Linked DNA regions of Homo sapiens. The protein of the gene in region 3 purifies or fractionates together with the protein of the main gene of each other region. This does not show direct contact. Each region holds a gene or a part of one and is shown on either strand. Other genes may lie near its edges.

Region 1 (7,025 bases), on a different chromosome or scaffold from region 3:
GGACTGTCCGGGCTCAGCACCTGCAGACAGGTGCACGTCGAGCCTGAGCTGGGACGATGCTCTGGGCCTGCCTTCCCACTGAGGGGGTGTGGGTGCCTCTCTTGGCTTCAGCAGCCATCCGAAGGTGGCCCTGCTTGCTGGCCTCCCAGCACCCTCCCACAGACCCACAGGTAAGCCAAGTGCTGACCTGCCACGCGCCACAGGTAGGACTGGTGCCACTGAGGCATACACGCGTGGCAGTGACTTAGGCTGGGCCAGCATCTCACACATCCTCCAGCCCAGGGCTAACTTGAAAATTCACAGGTCCCCTTTATACAGAGCCACCCCCATCCACAAACACAGGCTCACAGAGACTCCAAACACATAAAGGTAACGCTTAGGGCTCTGCCCATGGGACAGGCCTTTTTGGTCTCTGCTGCCAGATCGCAGCTGCCAGTCCAGCGAGGACCCTGTGAGTTGTGCTGCCAAGGCTTTTTAAGAACAAAGTGCGTCTAAGCCTGGGAAGTGCCCTCGCTCCGCACACGGGGTTGTTTTAAGGGTGGTTTTCGGCGTTGCCTTGGTACGGGATGAAGTCTGTGAGTTTGGGGAGGGAGGGCTGCGGGAGCTGCACTCACCCTGTAGGGGACACTGGTCCTCCCGGAAAGGCCCCTCCTTGGGGTCCCCATTGGGCAGCTCCTGCAGGAAGAACGGGGCAGTCAGTGGCCACATAGCTCAGTGGGCAGGCGGGGGAGATGGGCAGGAGCTCTGGGCGGCTGGACTGGAGCCTGACACTCGCCTCAGGCCTCCTGGGGCGTCTCAATCTCTGGGTCCAGAAACACCAACCCTTCGTGCCCCACTCAGCCTCAGATTTTAGGAAGCAAAACACACAGACATTCCTGTGTTGTCAGGTTCCCCAAAGCATTTCCAGGTAGAAGATGCAGCTGCCTGGAATGACCCCTTCAGTCAGTGCTGCCCTGGGGATCCCCTTGGCCAGGGCCCCCATGCTGGATTACCCTAAATGCAAGAGGAGACACACTGCCCCTTTGCTCTGGGGCCTGCTCCCAGCACTGCCCACTGGAGCCTGACACGAGGACTCCAGCCGCTGCCCGCATGGCTGCCCAGGACCCCAACATGCCTCTTATAGGGCTGCCGGCCGAGACCAGTTACGGAAAATGGGGAAAAACTTCAAACACATCCCAGCGGTGTTTCAGCTGAGCCGAAGCTCACATGGTTCTCATGAATAATCTGCAGCCTTCAGGACACAGAGAAGGAGACAGACCTGTGGTCAGGGCAGGGGCCTTGCGCAGTGGTGGAGGTGCGGAGCCCCTCGGCCCAGCACACACCGCCCTGGAGCATTTCCTGAGAGCAGGCAGCTCTCGGGCAGGCGGGCGGGAGGGATGGGCAGCTGTGTTTCTGCTTCTGATTCCAGGTCCCTGGAAAGCCGTGGAAAGCCCACAAGGAGATACAGCACAGAGCTCAGTCCCGTCCACCTGGACGGCCAGAGCCTGACCCTGGAGATGACTTTGGTGCCGAGTTGGTGTCTCCGTGGGTGGACACAGGACCCCAGGGCTGCCCAGCTGGGACTGCCCTCACAGTCCCCACGGCTTCATCCTTTCCTCCTGACCAGGGGTCATGTGCCCCTCATCTCTTCTGACCTCCTATGGGGCTGTCTGCCCTGCCGGGGTCCCTGGGGTTCCTGGAGTCTGGCCCAGGCAGGAGGCTGAGCAGGGTCACCCTCGAGGGCACCTGGACCCCCCCAAGCGCCTCCTGCCACCGTGGTCACTGGCCAGGGTCCAAACAGGGTATGGTGGAAGGTTCCAGGCTGGCCAGCTGCCACCCCAGAACTTGGGTGGGGAGAGAGGGACCAGACCCCCACCCACACATGGGCACTAAGGTGGCGCTGCCGAGGCTGAATATTGTTGAGTGAGACCCAGGCCCCCAGCCCCCCTTGTGGCTGAGCCAAGGGCCCCCCAGAGCTGAGGTCTCCTGCTGGCCGCCCAGGGCGGTGCCAAGGCAGGGTGGGCAGCTCCCAGCGGGAGGCAGGAGAGCTTGCCCTCATTTTAATAAGAAACAAAACAGCTGATTATTAAAAAGTAGGCCTCCCTCCTGGGGGCTGCAGTCCCGACATTCCGGGACTGGCTGCTGCAGCCTGAGGGGCCCCATGAGCCCAGCCCGGCGAGGCCTTTGTACATCCACACAGCAGGGAGGCACCGCTGTGAGGGAAAAGCTCTGTCCAGGTGGACGCTGGCATAAAACCAAATCATCTCTAAAACCCAGGCTGTAGTTATTTATTTATTTATTTCAAAATCAGAATAATGGGTGAGGCTGCAGTCGTGGGCTTCCATGGAGTGCAGAGCAGTGCCCAGAGCCCCAGAGTTGCAGCCCCCATGGGCACAGAATCCTCGTGGGATGGACCAGATACTAGGAGCTCTACAGCCCCTCAGGTGGACTCGTGCAGGTGCTTGGAGGTGGCTGCCGACAGAAATGGTGTCATAAGGGCAGCCAAGGCCACCAATGCCCAGGCTGAGGGATGCAGGCACTGCCACTGCGGAGGGGGGCCAAGGCCACCAATGCCCAGGCTGAGGGACGCAGGCACTGTCACTGTGGAGGGGGGCAGCCAAGACCACCAATGCCCAGGCTGAGGGACGCAGGCACTGCCACTGTGGAGGGCTGGTAGGGAGGGGAAGGTGACCCTAAATGCTGAGGTGGGTGCCCCGAGGCATCCCTGTCTACCCTTGGGAGCTCCAGCCCAGACCTTCTCCTCTGGGATGTGGGGAGGGTGCAGGGGACCTGTGTGGTGAAGCCCCCAGGGTTCTCAGTACCCCCCCCCCCGCACCACAATCCCCCCTCAGGCACCCAGTTCACCTCCCATCAGACCAGCAGGCAGAGCTCAGGCCTCCTGCATGGTGCTGGGTGCCCTGAGCCTCCTTACAGATAGCAGTGAGGTGCCCTGGGGCCTGAGGGCCAGCGCGTACAGCACTCCTTGCTAAAGAGCCTTAACTGAGGTCACTCATGGAGGCCACATCGCTGCCCAGATGAGGGGCAGCAGCAGTGGCTTCCTGGAAAGTGCCAGAACTCAGAGGAGCCGGAGGTGCGGTGGCTCCTGAGGACAGGCAGCGGGCGACGGGTTGGACGGGGTGGAGTATTTTTTAAGGATTTTTAAGTGTTTCCCACGATTTGCTGAACATGTCAAGTGAGAAACAGCACATCACGCACTCCACGCATAAAGCTAATACAGTGAAAATGTAAACGCAGCCCGTGCCGTGTTTCTAAAAATTCTGAGCGCACTTGTGGGGGATTTCACTGGTTACAGACAGGAGTGTAAATGCACAGGGTGACAGAAGGAGGGGCGCAGCTGTTCAAGACAGAATCTGCACAGACCCGTGGTTTGATGTCTGGAAACGCTCCGCGCGCTACACCAACCAGCCAAGCTACAATAACCAATAAAAACTGTAATAACCAACCAAAACTACACCATGTAGCCAACGCTGCACCAACCAGCCAACGCTGTATCAACCAGCCAATACTACACCAACCAGCCCATGACTGAGTTCCTAACACAGAGGAAAACCACATTGAAAAAATATCCCCTTATTCCCTAGAATTCTCAGCGCTCGAACGCACAGTGTTTTTTCTAAGACCCAGGTCAACAGCTACCTCTGAGATGCAGGGAGGATCAAACGGGAAAAAATGAGCATCTACAGTCAAAGCCACTCCAATCTCTGTGGCTGGTGATTTCATCAGATCCGTCCTGGTTGCATAAAACTGCCCTTTAATCTACGCTGCCTCGGTTAACTAGAAGGCCAAGAGCTTTAATTGCAACTTATAAAACCTGCCCCCGGGCCGCTGGCCAGATGTGCAGCCCCTCCCCACTGGGAAGACCTTCTGAGAGGCCAAGTCCGCACACAGGATCCCAGCAGGCCTGGCCCAATGTGCCCCGGCACCCACCAAAGCCTCAGCTTCCCAGGGCGGGCGCCCCTCCCTGAGATGCAGCCCCCACCTGGCCTCGCCCTCCTGAGGACCCACCCTACCCTCACTCCCTCCCGAGGGCCCAACCCTCCCCCTCAATCCCTCTGGCCCTGTCCCTAGCGAGACCCTCCTGTGATCCCCCAACCTGTTCCGCCCCCCTTCCTGTCCCAGCTGCACTTCCGGTTTGGGGTGCCTAGGCGCCTCCTCTAGCCTGTCCCACTGCTCTGCATCCCTGAGAACCCTCCAGGTCAGCAGGGACCCCACGGCTGGCCTGCAGACCTCCCCATGCCCGTTGTCCCCTCCCGCCCATGGCATCCTCCTGTGATGCCGGGGGCTCTCCTGGCCCCTGGGAGGACAGGAACCCGACCGTGGGCCTGCCCCGTGGGGCCTCATCCCATAAGGAAAGCAGCCGCATCTGCCTGAGCAGCTCAACCCCACTCCCTCACTCAGCATCACCTCAGATTTGGGAGGAGGGTCTGACCCCAACCCACGGAGGCCTCCGGGACCAGAACCCATAGCCTCGCAGCTGCATGAGCAGCAGGCGTCTGTCACACGGCGTCAACAACAGGTAGCCTTTGCTTCAGGTCCCACGGCCCTACGGGATGCTCAGGAAGGCCACCCTGGTCTGTGAGCCAACCACCCCGAGGCCACCGTCCACGTCCCCGCCACGACAGTGAGGACATCTGATCCCCGCCACAGGCACCGGGCTGAGCGCTTCGTCCTCCCAGCACCCAGCCCCCGTCCTGGTCCCAGCCCAGACGGTAAGATGCAAACCACAGCCTCCACAGGCGGCCAGGCACGGAGAGACGCTCACAAAACCTCAACCCCCAGCTTCCTTGGAAAAGTCAAAAGGAGTGTGTTCCCCACGTGCCAGCGCTCGGCAGCGCCCAGCAGCTGGAGCACCACTGCCCCCCAGAGCCACCCCGTCTGTCGGAACCCCTGCAGAGGCGCCAGGCAGCTGCAACACAGGTATCATCCTGGTGGCCTTCAACCTGGAAGTGCCGGTGCAGGCACCTCTGGGAGCCACCTGGAGCGGGCGATGTCCTCTTCCCAGTGGACAGGTGGGCACGGCCAGGCACCTTTCCCAGGTCTCGCAAATGCAAGGAGGCGCTGTCCCCTCCTGGGCCTCGTGAGGGCAGCTGTTGGCCACAGCTCTGGTGGAACGCCCGGTGGGAAACACACGGGTGTCCACAGTGAAGTCACGGCCCTCTGGGACATGACCTAAACCCTGGTCTAGGGTTCTAGAAATACCAACCCCGATCAACAGGCAAAGGCCACAGCGTGTCCAGGAGGCCAGGCTGGGAGCATCCCCTGGAGCCCAACGTCTCCCCACGAGTTGGGAGGGTGGAGGTGATGGGAGCCGAGGCAGAGGAGAGGGAGCGGGGAGGGAGGAGAGAGACAGAGAGGAAGGCTTCAGAGAACTGGGTGGGCGTGTCGGGCAGCATTTTCCAGACCTCGGGGCTCCCGGGTCCCTCTGGAGTGGGTGTGGAACCCCAAGTCTGGGACGTTATCCAGAAGGCACAGCTCCTACACCGCCTGACACAGGACGGGCCTCTCCTACAGCTTTCATCGCCACCAGCAGCACCTGGCACCCCTAGATCCATAGGCACCTCCCAGGCTGCACTCTGGCTCCCCAGCGCCTTGGCCACCTTGCACTGTGGTGGGGACGGCCCTGTTGGGTGGAGCCCCTGGCTCGAAGTTTCTGCCACTGGGGAAATGGCCTTGGTGCACCTCCCTGTCCTTGGCAGGTCAAGCAGTGGCTCTCGAGCTGTGCCCAGGGGGCCCCCAGGAGCTGGAAAGAAGGGCCGGGGTGACAGCCTGGCCCATGTCCTGTGGTCATTGTCACCACCCCTGTGGCCACCCTGTTCTGCAGGGCTAATCCTACAAACTGGGCTGCCAGGCCCAAGGCTGCCAGAATTACGGGGCTGTCGTGGCATCGAGGGCCAGTTTGTGGGGCTCAGGCAGGATGCCAAGTGGTGAGGAGCAAGGTAGGCGCCTGCCAAGCTTAGGCTGCAGCCACCGCCACCTCAGGGCACTCGGGAGGCACCTGGGATGCGGCTGGGCAGGACCAAGGCCACGTCCAGGCCAGCAGTGACCTCCTGCCTCGGGGGCTGGGAGGATGCTGGACGTGGTAGAATGAAGTGAGTGCCTGGCAGGTGGCTCAGGGAGGGGAGCTTTGGGATATGGCACACGGGCTGGAGCTGGGCCTCTCAGGAAAAGGCTGAGGGTGATGTCTGGATCCCAAGGAACCCAAAGGGCTGGGACACCCACAGTGGGTGGGAAGAGCAGGGACAATGGGCTGGGACACCCACAGAGGGTGGGAAGAGCAGGGACAATGGGCTGGGACACCCACAGCGGGTGGGAAGAGCAGGGACAATGGGCTGAGACGCCCACAGCAGATGGGAAGAGCAGGGACAATGGGCTGAGACGCCCACAGAGGGTGGGAAGAGCAGGGAAAAAGGGCTGGGACGCCCACAGCGGGTGGGAAGAGCAGGGACAATGGGCCGAGACGCCCACAGAGGGTGGGAAGAGCAGGGACAATGGACCGAGACGCCCACAGCGGGTGGGAAGAGCAGGGACAAAGGGCTGGGACGCCCACAGCGGGTGGGAAGAGCAGGGACAATGGGCTGAGACGCCCACTAGCAGGTGGGAAGAGCAGGGACAATGGGCTGAGACGCCCACAGAGGGTGGGAAGAGCAGGGACAAAGGGCTGGGACGCCCACAGCGGGTGGGAAGAGCAGGGACAATGGGCTGGGGCACCCACAGAGGGTGGGAAGAGCAGGGACAATGGGCTGAGACGCCCACAGCGGGTGGGAAGAGCAGGGACAATGGGCTGGGACGCCCACAGAGGGTGGGAAGAGCAGGGACAATGGGCTGAGACGCCCACTAGCGGGTGGGAAGAGCAGGGACAATGGGCTGAGACGCCCACAGCGGGTGGGAAGAGCAGGGACAATGGGCTGGGACGCCCACAGAGGGTGGGAAGAGCAGGGACAACGGGCTGGGACGCCCACAGCGGGTGGGAAGAGCAGGGACAACGGGCTGAGATGCCCACTAGCGGGTGGGAAGAGCAGGGACAA
Region 2 (7,025 bases), on a different chromosome or scaffold from region 3:
GTTCAAGTGATTCTCCTGCCTCAGCCTCCCAAGTAGCTGGGACTACAGGCGTGCTCTACCACGGCCGGCTAAATTTTGTGTTTTTAGTAGAGGCGAGGTTTCACCATCTTGGCCAGGCTGGTCTTGAACTCCCGACCTTGTGATCCACCCGCCTTGGCCTCCCAAAGTGCTGGGATTACAGGTGTGAGCCACGGCGCCCGACCAGTTTTTGACATTTCTAAGCCAAAAGTTCCATTTGATGAGGTCTTAGATGCAGGGGCAATGTGTCCCTTTTCAGATTTCAGATGTTTAGAAAAAGATGTGTCATATTTGGGCCAACTGAAAAACTCTTGATATGTAGGTTTTTATGAAGCTGTGCAGAATGTAGGAAATACATTTTAGAACCAACAAAGAGGCATTTAATTTTGAGTGTGCCTGTCTCCTTTGAGATGAGCAACAGCTATTTTTCTCTTCAAAAGACAATGCGTGTATTTATCAGCACATTTTATATAATCAGCAAATCTAAACCTCTGAATTAGGTAAGCCCTATAGGTTTGTTGCCAGAATTAGTGAATTTATACATGCAAAGTGCTTAGAACAGTGCCTGGTACACAGTGAGCACTCAATATTATTTATTGCTATTATTATGTTTATTTATTTTATACTTTTAGAGTATAATTTTGATGTTAGGTTTGGATTGCTGAGGCCAAGCAAAATTTAGATAGACCAACCCAGCTAATCCACTAGAAAGATATTTGAGGGTTATTCCCATCTAAAGATCTATGGGATCTTTGGATATCATCTGTGAGAAACAACAGAAGTTTGTAGATAAGACAGATATAGATTCAAATGCCACCTTCACAATTTATTAGTGAGGGAACCCTTTGGTAAAATGAGCATGACAAAACCTACTTCTCAGCTTTGTGAACGTACAGAAGATCATGAATGTAAAATGTCCATGAAGTGGTAGGTGGTCAACAGATATTGCTCTAGCAAAGTGGTTAAGAGCAAGCAAACTCTGGAGCCAAAGGGCCTGGGTTCAAATCCCGATTCTGCCACTTCTTATAGTATGGCCTTGGGCAGGTGACCTCACTTTTCTGTGCCACTATTCAATGATAATATTCCTTTATTGTCCAACGTTTTGTAAGTTAAATCAGTTAATAAACACACTATGATAATGTGTTGGTAACTATTCTTTTTACTTTTAGCAGAATAACTTAAAGGAACACTGCAGGTAGGAGGGTTATACATAATCTCTGAGGGCCAGCTAGGACACTCGCCCATTTCCCACCCTTTTTCCTGTGCAATGAAGAGTATAAGAAGTGACAGTGCCATTCTAAAGGACTAGCCTTGAGTTGGCTCTAATTTATATGACTCGTGCCTGTAATCCCAGCACTTTGGGAGGCCGAGGCTGGCAGATCACTTGAGGTCAGGAGTTGGAGACCAGCCTGGCAAACATGACGAAATCTCATCTCTACCAAAAATACAAAGATCAGCCGGGCATGGTAGCACACACCTGTAATCCCAGCTTCTGGGGAGGCTGAGGCAGAAGAATTGTTTGAACCCAGGGGGCGGAGGATGCAGTGAGCTGAGATCACGCCACTGCACTACAGCCTGGGTGACAGAGTGAGATTCTGTCTCAAATAATAATAATAATTTATATGAGAAAGAAGTCATTCAAAAGCATCATTACTTTACATGTCAAATTAGAAAGGCACACCCCAGTACTAAAGCATCCTTGATGATGAAAACATTTAGAACCACTGGTTTCAGGAGCTCCATGCAATGGTGAAACAGCCTCTACTCCAAGGGTTGTTGCTCCCTGTGGGATTCCTGGGTGAGGAACACACTGCTCCCGTTGGGGTGGAATCCTGTGGAGGAAGTGGATGAAGAGTGTAGCCAAGTCAGTGAGCCTACTGCATGGGATTAGAGTACTTCAGGTTGCAGTATAATTCTGTTCAGGTGCATGCTCACTCCATCTGGCGTAAAGAACAGAGAAATTAAACCATTGATTCACAGAGCAATATGAGTAGCTGCCTGGGGACTTCCTGTCCATTCTGGGGTCCCCAACAGCCAATCAATATTGGCCGGTTCCTAATCTGACCTAGAGCTAGAGGCCACTAGCACCCCTCCATTCATCCTTTCTTCTCTCCCTACCCACTCCCACCAGCATTCTGAGGAGGTGAGGGCTGAAGCTGCAGAGGCTGTTGTACTGTCAGTTACTGTAAAGTCCCCATCCTGCTCTCTGTAGTTTGCTGTGAAGGAGTGGAGGGGGCTGGGAACAAAGGGGGTTCCCAATAAGCAGCTTACTAATACCTACCCTTGCTTCTCTCACTTCCTGATCAATAATTCCCATCCTTTCTTCATGTACCTCCCCCACATTTTTGTTCTTTAAGGGAAGAAGGGAGCAGCTTTCCATCCCCACACAATGTTGGGGACATTTGGTATTATACATTATGAAAATAAGATTTACCAGATTTTAGAGATGGAAGAAAACTTGGGGATGATCTTGTTCCATTCTCTTATAAGAACAAACAATATTTGGAGAAGCTGAGTAACTTGCTTTTTCAACTTCACACTTGAAAGTGTTTTCATGAGGAAGTTGGGGTTCTCTGCAGCACTTGGATGGGAGTCAGGGACTTGGATTGTCCCAATTCTGTCACTAAATTTGGACAAGCCACTTAACTTTTCCAGAATCTAGTTGCCTCATTTCAAATATTAGGGAAATTTCTAAATGGCTTAAAAGGAGCTTGTTAGCTTTAAAATTTTATGATTCTAAGTGTATGCTGCCAGAGATATGTAGCATAGCAGGACACATTAACAAGATTATTGAAACTGTTCTAATAAAGGACATCTTTGTGTCTTGGGTAGCTACTATGTTTAAAGACTGTGCTAGGTGGGAGTTGTGCAGAATACACAGGTTTGCTGTAGAGGGATAGGGCGTGTACACAGACAACTCTACTAACAAGAACGTTACTAGAAGCTTATTGGAATCACAGTATTTCTTGCTGAGGGTATGAAACATAAGAGTTCTCCTTGGAATATGAGGTTCTATTTGGGGCTTAAAGAATGGTCAAAGGTTGAGTGCAAATAACATGGATTGAGATGGCTTTAAAAAATAATCAAATGGTTTGTTAGTATTAAACTGGTGCAGAAATAATTGCAGTTTTTGCCATTCCTTTTAATGGCAAAAATTGCAGTTACTTTTAAACCAAATCCCTAATATTATTTGCATAGTTTATCTCTGTTATGGAAGTTTTTATTGACAAGTAATGTAGATATTCACCTGATCTAAGTTACCCTGAATCTTATATTAGCAGAATCTGAATTGCTTATAAATAATTATGGCTATGTTGGATGTAGAACTTATTATTTGATAGTTTATGAACAGTGCTAAGGTCTAATCTACTTTTTACAGAGAAGCTAAGAACATGCTACAGCTGGTTGAAAAACAAAAACTTCAGGCATTGAAATGTTTTGTCAATGAAATGGCAGGACTCATTTGATGACTGATTATTATCAACTGATTTAAATGACTGAATTTTTGGTACTGTGTACATCTATACTCTAAGAAGGAAATTGAAAGTAATTCTGCTATGCTTGTTGCCACTATATTAATAACTGCATCATCTAAAATAATTGATAGAGCTCAGATTTATCCTTTGTAATAATTCTAGTACTTCTTTAAACATGTTTTGGGATTAGCAGCTGTCAACAGTTAGAACATGAAACAGATTCTGTTACAGGAGTAGAAGTCGATCCAGACATTTAATGTCATTTTCACCTGTGAGAGAGAGAATAAAGAGAAAGAGAGATCATTATTTATGGGATTATGTGAACTTCAAGTCCGTTTTCATTATTAGGAGAAGCTGTGCTTTAAAGGACAGTCAGGGACTTTACTTTCATGAAATGCCTGAGCTGTAAATAAAGTATTGCTTTATTTTTTATTTCTTGAACATTTGAAATAAAAAATTAGCTATGAGTTATGTTCAAATTATATTATAAAAATTTGCTCTTAGCATTGTGCATATATATTATACAGAAAAACACAGAGTAAAAAGAATAGACTTCAGTTCCTGTTCAGAAAAGGTTTAAAATTTGAATACTGATTTTGGAAACCCCAAACCTTAAGAATTCAAGAAGCTTACGGTCTTCTTGAGGGACACCTATTCAAACTCTTAAATATGGTGATTGGGTAGAAAGTGCAGAAAAGCCTGCTGATACATGCCCTAAAACACCTTGGAAAAAAGAGGTGGTAGTTGCTTGAGGTAGGACTTAAGTACTAGTTGGAAATAGAAGACAAGGATGGAGACTGTTGGTAGATGACTCTCCATGGGTCCTTCCTGTTTCTACACACCTTGTAAGCAGGGCATTGAGTGCCTGTGTTCCAAACTACCTTTTCCATCATGTTTCTACAGCAAACAGTCATGGAAGATAGAAATAGAGTCTTCCTCTGGAGCAAAGGGCAGACACGCTTGCTTCCTGTACTTCCCACTATAAGATATTCCGGCTCCCTAAACTCAGCTGCCTTTCCTGTAACCCACCATGATACAGATGTCACCTGACCTGTGGGAATTGGGGGTCAGGGAACCAAGAGAAATGCTGACTGTCTGGCTACTGTGACTGCCCTGAGTAATAAATTGTCCTTCGTCTCCAACCCAGGAGTCTCATGTTTTCTACCAGCAGGATAACTGTGGCGGGCTAACGTGTTAGTTTGCAAGTAAGGTAAAATCTCAGACCCTTTGCAGTTTGTGGCAGGGATTATATTCTGAGGAGAGAGGAACCGTATGCACCATGGCTCAGAGGCATGAGAAACGGGGAACCATAACTAGTTCTCTATCTTCAGAGCCTTTAAAAGGTGCACCAAGGAGGGCATTTTAGGGGAGAATATAAAGTTGGAGATATAGACACAGCCAGATTCCTGAGAGACCTTATATGCCAGGTAGAAGACTTCAGATTGTATGGGGGAATTATTAGAGAATTTTTAGCAGGGGTGTGATATGATAAATTTTGTGTTGATTAAGTTACTCCAGGAAATATGCGATGGGTGGATTGAAGGATGGGGCACCTTTTCTCTAGGACGAAAAAGAAAGAGTAGTTGGTGAAGTCAGTTAGAGGTAGTAATAGGATGAAGAAGGGATCTGAATGACCCCTTGGCCATTCAGTGAGTAGTGATGCTATTCACCTAGATACAGCACATAGGAGGGAAAAGAAATTCTGGGAAGGAGGGAGATGAGACCGAGTTAGCTTTAAAATAACTAAATTCAGGCCTAGGAGCCTATAGGCTATCCAGATAGAAATATTTAATGGCCTATATGGATCTGGAACTCAGGAAGGAGGCTTCCGTGGGAGCAGAACACTTGGGCACCATTAGGGTGTATGTGGTAGATGCATTCTTGTGCAGCAGTCAAGGGGATGGGATTTAGACTCAAGTGCAAATTGCCCCCCATCTCCTGTGATAAGTGACTGAAGCTCTCCGGGCTTCAGTTTCCTAGTTCATCATAGTGGGCTCTAGCGGATAAATGTTACAAAGGTTAAATGAGACAACATAGGCAAAGTGCGTGGTACTCAATAGAAGTCAGCTGCTGTCATCAGCAGCAGGATCACCAGAATGTGGTGCTTGACACCAAAAGATTAGGTGAGATTGCCCAAAACAGCAGGTGAAATGAGGGGAGAGGATGAAGTCAAACACAGGAAGAAAAGCCTTTGAAGTATGTGGAAAGAAACAACCAGAAAGGTAAGATAAGAACCAGAAGAGATTCAAGAAGGAAGGTGTGGCCGGGCGCGGTGGCTCAAGCCTGTAATCCCAGCACTTTGGGAGGCCGAGGCGGGCGGAACACGAGGTCAGGAGATCGAGACCATCCTGGCTAACACGGTGAAACCCCGTCTGTACTAAAGATACAAAAGAATTAGCCGGGCGCGGTGGCAGGCGCCTGTAGTCCCAGCTACTCGGGAGGCTGACGCGGGAGAATGGCGCGAACCCGGGAGGCGGAGCTTGCAGTGAGCCGAGATCGCGCCACTGCACTCCAGCCTGGGCGACAGAGCGAGGAGCCGTCTCAAAAAAAAAAGAAAAAAAAAAAAAAGTAAGGAAGGTGTGGCCAAGATTGAGAAATTCGTCAGAGCAAACAAGGCAGTCAGGGGCTAAATAGCCTCCTTTAAATTTTACAACCTTGAGGACCTCGGCAACTTTAACAGAATTTCAGTGGATCCCTAGGGCAAACCAGGCCTTACAAACCAGGAATGGATGGTCAATAGGAAGTGGAGACAGTAAGTGTAGACCTTACCTTGGAGGGAAGGAAGAGAAAGAGCCATGGCCAAGGGAAGTTTGAAATCAAAGGAAATATCTTTTTTTTTTTTTTTCGATTGGAGAGACCTCAGTTATTCTTTTAAAATACTTATTGAGCCCCTCAGTTATTCTTTTAAAATACGTATTGAGTCCCTACTTTGAGTCAGGCACTATGGCAGACACGAGGGAGATAGCAGTGAATCAGACAGATGCAACGCCTGCCTTCATGGAGTTTCACCTTAGCATCTGTCCATATGCTAGGGGAGTGGGGCAGGGGCAGGGAGCTGGATACAGGAGAGACTGAAGATCCAGGGAGCAAGTGAGTAAAGAATAGGGCTTGAGATCCCACAGACAACTCAGCTTTGAACAAAAGGGTTTTGTCATCCAATAGGACAAGAAGGCGTTAGGATACATCAAACGTGGTTGTTGAAAACAGAAAAGGGCTGGGCACTGTGGCTCATGCCTATAATCCCAGCACTTTGGGAGGCCAAGGTGGGCAGATCACTTGAGGCCAGGAGTTCGAGACCAGCCTGGCCAACATGGTGAAACCCCATCTCTACTAAAAATACAAAAATTAGCCAGGTGTGGTGGTGCATGCCTGTAATCCCAGCTACTTGGAAGGCTGAGGCAGGAGAATTGCTTGAACCCAGGGGGTGGAGGTTGCAGTGAGCCACGATCGTGCCACTGCACTCCAGCCCGGGCAACAGAGCGAGACTCTGTCTCAAAAAAAAAAAAAGGAAGAAAGAACATAGACAGGGAA
Region 3 (7,025 bases):
CCTATTGTTACACACACACATGCAGGCACGCACACACGCCAGCCCCCACACCCCCTTCACAGTACCACAGTACAGCTACAGAATTACCAATGACTAAAACTGAACACTGATGCTTCTTGGTAAATGCTGGTCAATTACATGAATTACCTTCTTTCACAAGGTAGCAACGTAAAGACATTGCTCTAAGATCAACAATTAAATAAGAATTTAATAAGCAGAGCTAGGATTTGAACCCAGGCAGGCTGCAAGGGACAGAATCAAAATTTAAACCCAGGCAGTTTGCCTTCAGCACTCACATCCTTAACAACATTCACCAGGCAATTCCTTTAGTGGCAGAGATCCGTAACTATTAAAACACCGAAAACCTATCTACCAAAGTAGCTACTGCCACCCATCTCTATCCACTGATCATGCTGAACACGCACACCACCTCTCAACGCACATCCTCAGCTTGCTTCCTGTTTGCTATTAACTCATGCAGCACTACTGCTGAACCTTTCATGAGGGTCCTCTCCGTGCCCCTGGAACCTCCGTTTCACTGCAGAAAATTCTCTCTTTTTCTTCTATAATCACATCCTTATCCCAAGCAAAACTACTTTCTGAATAAACGACATCCCTGACAGCTTTTCCAATAGAGACTGGTCTAGGAGAAGGAAGACTTCTAAGTTCTCCTAGCTCCTTGCATACTCAATGACTGCTCTATTACTCCAAACTCTTCCTCCTCACAAGCTGATGATCTACATTCTATTTCTCAGTTTTTGTCATCAATAGATCTCTACACCCTTCTCCCAGATTCACTGAGTATCTACAGCAAACCCACCCAATACCTGAGATCACACCAAGGTATGGTGCAGCCATGTTCCATTCAACAGAGTTCTTTGCTCTCTACTCCTAGACTTTCACTTGTCCACACCCATGACCATGCTGCTCCATACTAGAAGTCTGAATTGCAACACTCCACTCTTGGCCCGTGGCTTCCTTTTTCAGTTCCTCTTCTCTTATTATTTCTATTTAGGGACTCATCAGGACATCTGGACTCTTTATTTTTTACTTTTTCTTTCTTTGATTCAGAGTTTCCCTCTTGTTGCCAAGGCTGGATGGAGTGCAGTGGCTCGACGTTGGCTCATTGCAACCTCCACCTCCTGGGTTCAAGCGATTCTCCTGTCTCAGCCTCCCGAGTAGCTGGGATTACAGGTGCCCGCCACCATGCCTGGCTAATTTTTGTATTTTTAGTGGAGACGGGGTTTCACCATGTCGGTCAGGCTGCTCTCGAACTCCTCACCTCAGGTACCTGCCCGCCTTGGCCTCCCAAAGTGCTGGGATTACAGGCATGAGCCACCACGGAAGGCCCCAGCTCACAACTTTCTATGTGACCTCAGGTATGTCAAACACCCAAAACCCTGGTTTGTGCATTCATAGTTGGGATAATACCTCCCCCTTCCAGTGCCATTTTAAAGATTTCATGTACTACCTTGCACAAATACATGTAACAAAAATATTTCTCTACTCAGGACAGTGCCCAGTACAGCTGGCGAGTCAGTAACTGTGGTTCCCCCACCCTTCCCTCCCCCAACCAACCTCACTTTCCACCTGCCCTGTAATTCTCTTCCCTGTTCTTTCCTGTATTTACGTGCCTGTCTCTTCTACTAGAATCGGTTACTCAACAGCAGCACTCCCGACAGTTTGTTGTGGGGCCCGTGCTGTGCCCAGTAGAATGGTTAGCAGCACCCCAGTCCCCACCCCACTAGATGCTAGGAACACCCTCCAGAAGTTGTGACAATCAAAAGTATTTCTAGACATTGTTAAACGTTCTCTGAAGTACAAAAGCACCTCTAATTGAAAACTGCTGCATTACAGTGATGGCTGTCCAACTTTTTTTTAACAAGACCTACAATAAGAAACATTTTATATATGTATATACACCCACAGTAAGTAAAATAACTTCATTAAATAATCCTCAGGGAAAAAAAAAGAGGAATCAGACAAATTAACCCAATATATTGGTTTTTGGGTGCTTTTTTTTTTTTTTAGATGGAGTCTCGCGCTCTGTCACCCAGGCTGGAGTGCAGCAGTGCGATCTCGGCTCACCGCAAGCTCCGCCTCCCGGATTCACACCATTCTCCTGCCTCAGCCTCCCGAGTAGCTGGGACCACAGGCTCCCGCCACCACGCCCAGCTAATGTTTTGTATTTTTAGTAGAGACGGGGTTTCACCATGTTAGCCAGGATGGTCTCGATCTCCTGACCTCGTGATCCGCCCACCTCAGCCTCCCAAAGTGCTGGGATTACAGGCCTGAGCCACCGCGCCTGGCCAACCCACCATATTTTTTTAAAAAACAGTCATCATTTTGCTTGAAAATACAATAGTTCCCCCTTATCCAAGAGGGATCCATTGAGACCTGCCAGTGGATGTGATGAAACCATGGAAAATACCAAACCTGATACAGACTATGTTTTGTCCTCATGCATAGCCACGGGTAAGTTTAACTTATAAACCAGGCACAAAGATCAATATCAGAAACATTATAACATACTGTAATACAAGTTATATGAATGTAGTCTCCTTTTCTCTCAAAATCTTAAGTGTACCGTCCTACAGGTAACTCAAACTGTGGATAAGGGGGGATGATGGCACAACAATCTCACCATTTGCCGATATTCCCGAATCATTTTTAGCTTGTCTTCTCCTCCCTTGTTTTCTTCTTTCTGTTCAATGCTGCTGATTATTCTCCAGGAGGCTCTTCTAGCTCCAATCACATTCTTATATGCAACAGATAGGAGGTTTCTTTCTTCAACTGTCAGCTCCACATCCATCCCTGCTACTTTCTTCATTGACTCCACCATTTCTGTATGGGAAAAGGAAAAGTCAGACCTTACAAATTTGAAGTTTTCTTAACATATTCCTTTCAAAGTAGTTTTTTTCTGTCAAGCTACTGCGAAAAAAACATTTTAACAAAAATAATTTCATAATCATCAAAACTAATATGAGTAAAAAGCCAAAAACATGTAAAGGAAACCAAACTAAGAGCCAATACAAAGACTCCAGAAGGTAGTTAGGTGGAGTGAGAAAGACTTCATATACTATCTAATATAATTTAGTGTGGTCTGAAAGCACCTCTCATTAAATAAGGTAATTAGGCACACCTAACTATTTTCCAGCAAAAAAAAATGAGCTGTCAGTTTAAGAGAAAGATTAAGAATTTACAGGTTCTAAAATGTATTGTCTCACAAATAAATAGTATTTCCAAAAATACAAAAGGAAGGGGAATTTGTTCATACAGCAAAAATATACGGAGTATATGGTTGGCCACCAACAGACTTTGGATGTTTTCTATCCTTCCTCGTATGAAGCTCCTTCATTGGTAAAACTTCTGATGATTCCTACTTGTTACCACTAGGTGGCGAGCAAAGAAAGGGGCCCAGAAAAGCCTTGGCATCTACCGCAAGCATAGGGAAACACAACGGCGTGTGAATGCAAAGCGCCACAAACAGCACAAGAAATAGTAACTGAATAAATACATTAATAAAAACTTATTTTTGATGCCATATTACCATGTGGCTCTCCAACATTACCCACGTTTCAATCTTTGGTGATGAGACTCAAGAATCTGCATTTTAGGGCCAGGAGTAAGTGGCTCATACCCCTAGCACTTTGAGAGCTGAGGCAGGAGAATCACTCGAGCTCAGGAGTTCGAGACCCTGTCTCTAAAAAATAAAAACAGAGGCTGGGCACAGTGGCTCATGCCTGTAAATCCCAGCACTTTGGCAGGCCGAGGTGGCACATCACCAGGTCAAGAGATAAAGACTATCCTGGCCAACATGGTGAAACACTGTCTCTACTAAAAATACAAAAATTAGCTGGGCGTGGTGATGCACGCCTGTAGTCCCAGGTACTCTAGAGACTGAGACAGGAGAATCGCTTGAACCCAGAAGGTGGAGATTGCAGTGAGCCAAGATCATGCCGCTGCACTCCAGCCCAGCAACAGAGACTCCACCTCAAAAAAAAAAAAATAGAATAAATAAAATAAAAATAAAAATAAAAATAGGCTGGATGTAGTGGCTCATGCATATAATCCCAGAACTGTGGGAGGCCAAGGTGGGCAGATCATTTGAGGTCACGAATTCAAGGCCAGCCTGGCCAACGTGGTGAAACGGTCTCTACTAAAAATACAAAAATTAGCTGCGTTTGGTGGTGCGCGCCTGTAATTACAGCTACTTGGGAAGCTGAGGCAGCAGAATTGCTTGAACCCAGGAGGCAGAGATTGCAACTGAGATCGCCCCACTGTATGCCACCTGGGGCAACAGAGCAGACTCCATCTCAAAAAAAACCAAAAGAAAGAATCTGCATTTAAATAAGCATCCTTAGCTTTCATTAACACCCTAAGCATAAGCATACCTTAACTAATAGGTATGAAAGAGATGGTGACTTCATAAAACACTACTAAATTGGACGGGCACGGTGGATCACACCTGTAATCTCAGCACTTTGGGAGGCCAAGGTGGGTGGATCGCCTGAGGTCAGGAGTTCGAGACCAGCCTGGCCAACATGGTGAAACCCGTCTCTACTAAAAATACAAAAATTAGCTGGGCATGGTGGTGCACGCTTGTAATCCCAGCTACCAGGAAGGCTGAGGCAGGAGAACTGCTTGAACCTGGGAGGCAGAGGTTGCAGTGAGCTGAGATTGCACCACTGCATTCCAGCCTGGGTGACAGAGTGAGACTCCGTTTCAAAAAAAAACACAAAACAAAAACCAAAACACTATTAAATTAAGGGGAGTGTGCCTAATGTATCCAGGAAAATATGTTTCAAAAATTAATCCTTTCGGGAATATAAAAAAAATTAAGCCATATTTTGTAAAGTCTCTTCGAAAAATATTCGGCAATGTTTTAATAAACATGTACCATATGACTCAGCAATCCCAATTCTATGCATCATCCAGAAGAAAAATAATCTTTACAAAGACTTTTACACACTCACTCACAGCAACTCTATTCATAATAGCCAAAAAGTGGAAACCCCTCAAATGTGCATCCAGAGGGGAAATGTATAAGCACACTGATGTTCACATATGTAAGATGGGATACCACTCAAAAATAAAGAATTAACTGTCCATGCACAGTGGCTCACATCTGTAATCCCAGCATTTGGGGAGGCCAAGACAGGAGGATTACTTGAGCCCAGTAGTTTGAGACCAACCTGGGCAACATGGTGAGACTCTGCCTCTACAAAAATTAGCTGGGTGTGGTGGTGTGTGCCTGCGGTCTCAACTACTCAGGAGATTAAGGCAAGAGAACTGCTTGACCCCAGGAATTCAGGCCTGCAGTGAGCTATTAGGTTGGTACAAAAGTAATTGCGCATTTTGCCAGCAAAAACCACAATTACTTTGTATAATCCTAACGCTGTACTCCAGCTTGGATGACAAAGCGAGAGACTCTGTGTCCAGAAAGAGAAGAGGAGACGGGAGGGGAGAAAAATAATTAACTGATACAAGCAACAATATGGAAGAATCTGAAAAACATCATATTAAGTGAAAAGAGTCAGATTAAAAGGATTTTATCATTCCATTTATATCAAATTGCAAAAAACACAAACTAAAAAGACAGAAAGCAAATGGTTATCAAGGTACAGAGGTGAACTGAGGGGCTTTTGTGCAAAGGACAGGTCACAGAATTGTACATGTAAAAGTGGCACGTTTAACTGTACACCTCAAGCTGATTTTTTAAATGCAATTCTGAACCATTAAAGAAGGATGACATGTTGGGTGCTGTGGCTCACACCTGTCATCTTAGCACTTTGGGAGGCTGAGGCAGGTGGATCACCTGAGGTCAGGAGTTCAAGACCAGCCTGGCCAACATGGTGACACCCCGTCTCTACTAAAAATATAAAAATTAGGCCAGGCACGGTGACTCACGCCTGTAATCCCAACACTTTGGGAGGCCGAGGCAGGCAGATCACCTGAGGTCGGGAGATCGAGACCAGCCTGACCAGCATGGAGAAACTAAAAATACAAAAAAATTTGCCAGACGTGGTGGCACATGCCTGTAATCCCAGCTACTCGAGGCTGAGGCGAGAGAATTGCTTGAACTCGGGAGGCGGAGGTTGCACTGAGTGGAGATCGCGCCACTGTACTCCAGTCTGGGCAACAAGAGCGAAACTCCATCTCAAAAAAAGGAAAAAAAAAGAAAAAGAAAAATACAAAAATTAGCCAGGCATGGTGGCAGGCATCTATAGTGCCAGCTACTCGGGAGGCTGAGGCAGGGGAATCGCTTGAACCCCGGAGACAGGGGTTGCACTGAGCTGAGATCGCGCCATTGCACTCCAGCCTAGGCGACAGAGTGAGACTCTGTCTCAAAAAAAAAAAAAAAAAAGTATTACAATATGGTAATAAGACCACTCATTAATTCATTTGTAGGAGTCTGAAAGCATTCATCTAAAACATGCCCAATTTTGTTTTCTAAACCAGTCACGAAACAGTCTAAATTTAGAAGCAGTGGAATAGGTAATCGTACCTCCATACTAGTTTAATTCTCAAAAATCAGCAAGTCAAACATAACTCAGAGGTAAGCCTGTAATTAAACTTTCTAAACTGATCGCAAAGTAAATCTTAAGTAACCCAGCTACACAAAAACAGTGCCATTAATTCTTTTAAGGCTTTACAATATTACATACAGAAAAACTATGCAGACATCAAATACTACCAAAAATTTAAGTTACATATCTCGAATATCATTCCTTATGATTTAATTTTGTTCAAATTTCTGTGCTTTACAAATTTTCAACAACGAAGACTTAGTATTTTTATAATGCAAAGAGAAATATATTTGTAACACTCAGTGATACTCTACTGTTCCAGATTCAAGCATAAATGCTTTCATTTTTACATATACACAAAACAATGCACAGACTGTGTGGTAAAATTATAGAAGCAACAATTATCCCTTTAATAATACCTTTATTTATATATAATTCCCCTACCTAACAATTCACCCATTTAAAGTGTACTATTCGGCCGGGAGCAGGGGCTCA

The links. Proteins that work in one complex are often made in the same cells at the same time.
Region 1: the proteins of YWHAE (region 3) and NKD2 purify together in Homo sapiens (affinity purification with mass spectrometry; 4 studies listed by BioGRID and IntAct, with this or other methods). This does not show direct contact.
Region 2: the proteins of YWHAE (region 3) and TBC1D1 purify together in Homo sapiens (affinity purification with mass spectrometry; 4 studies listed by BioGRID and IntAct, with this or other methods). This does not show direct contact.

The regions. Positions count from the first base shown.
Region 1 is NC_000005.10:1,025,802-1,032,826, reverse strand, and holds part of NKD2 (protein naked cuticle homolog 2), read right to left. Parts: intron 676-7,025; coding exon 615-675; intron 1-614. UniProt on the Homo sapiens protein: Cell autonomous antagonist of the canonical Wnt signaling pathway. May activate a second Wnt signaling pathway that controls planar cell polarity.
Region 2 is NC_000004.12:37,894,084-37,901,108, forward strand, and holds part of TBC1D1 (TBC1 domain family member 1), read left to right. Parts: intron 1-7,025. UniProt on the Homo sapiens protein: May act as a GTPase-activating protein for Rab family protein(s). May play a role in the cell cycle and differentiation of various tissues.
Region 3 is NC_000017.11:1,362,215-1,369,239, forward strand, and holds part of YWHAE (14-3-3 protein epsilon), read right to left. Parts: intron 2,845-7,025; coding exon 2,645-2,844; intron 1-2,644. UniProt on the Homo sapiens protein: Adapter protein implicated in the regulation of a large spectrum of both general and specialized signaling pathways. Binds to a large number of partners, usually by recognition of a phosphoserine or phosphothreonine motif.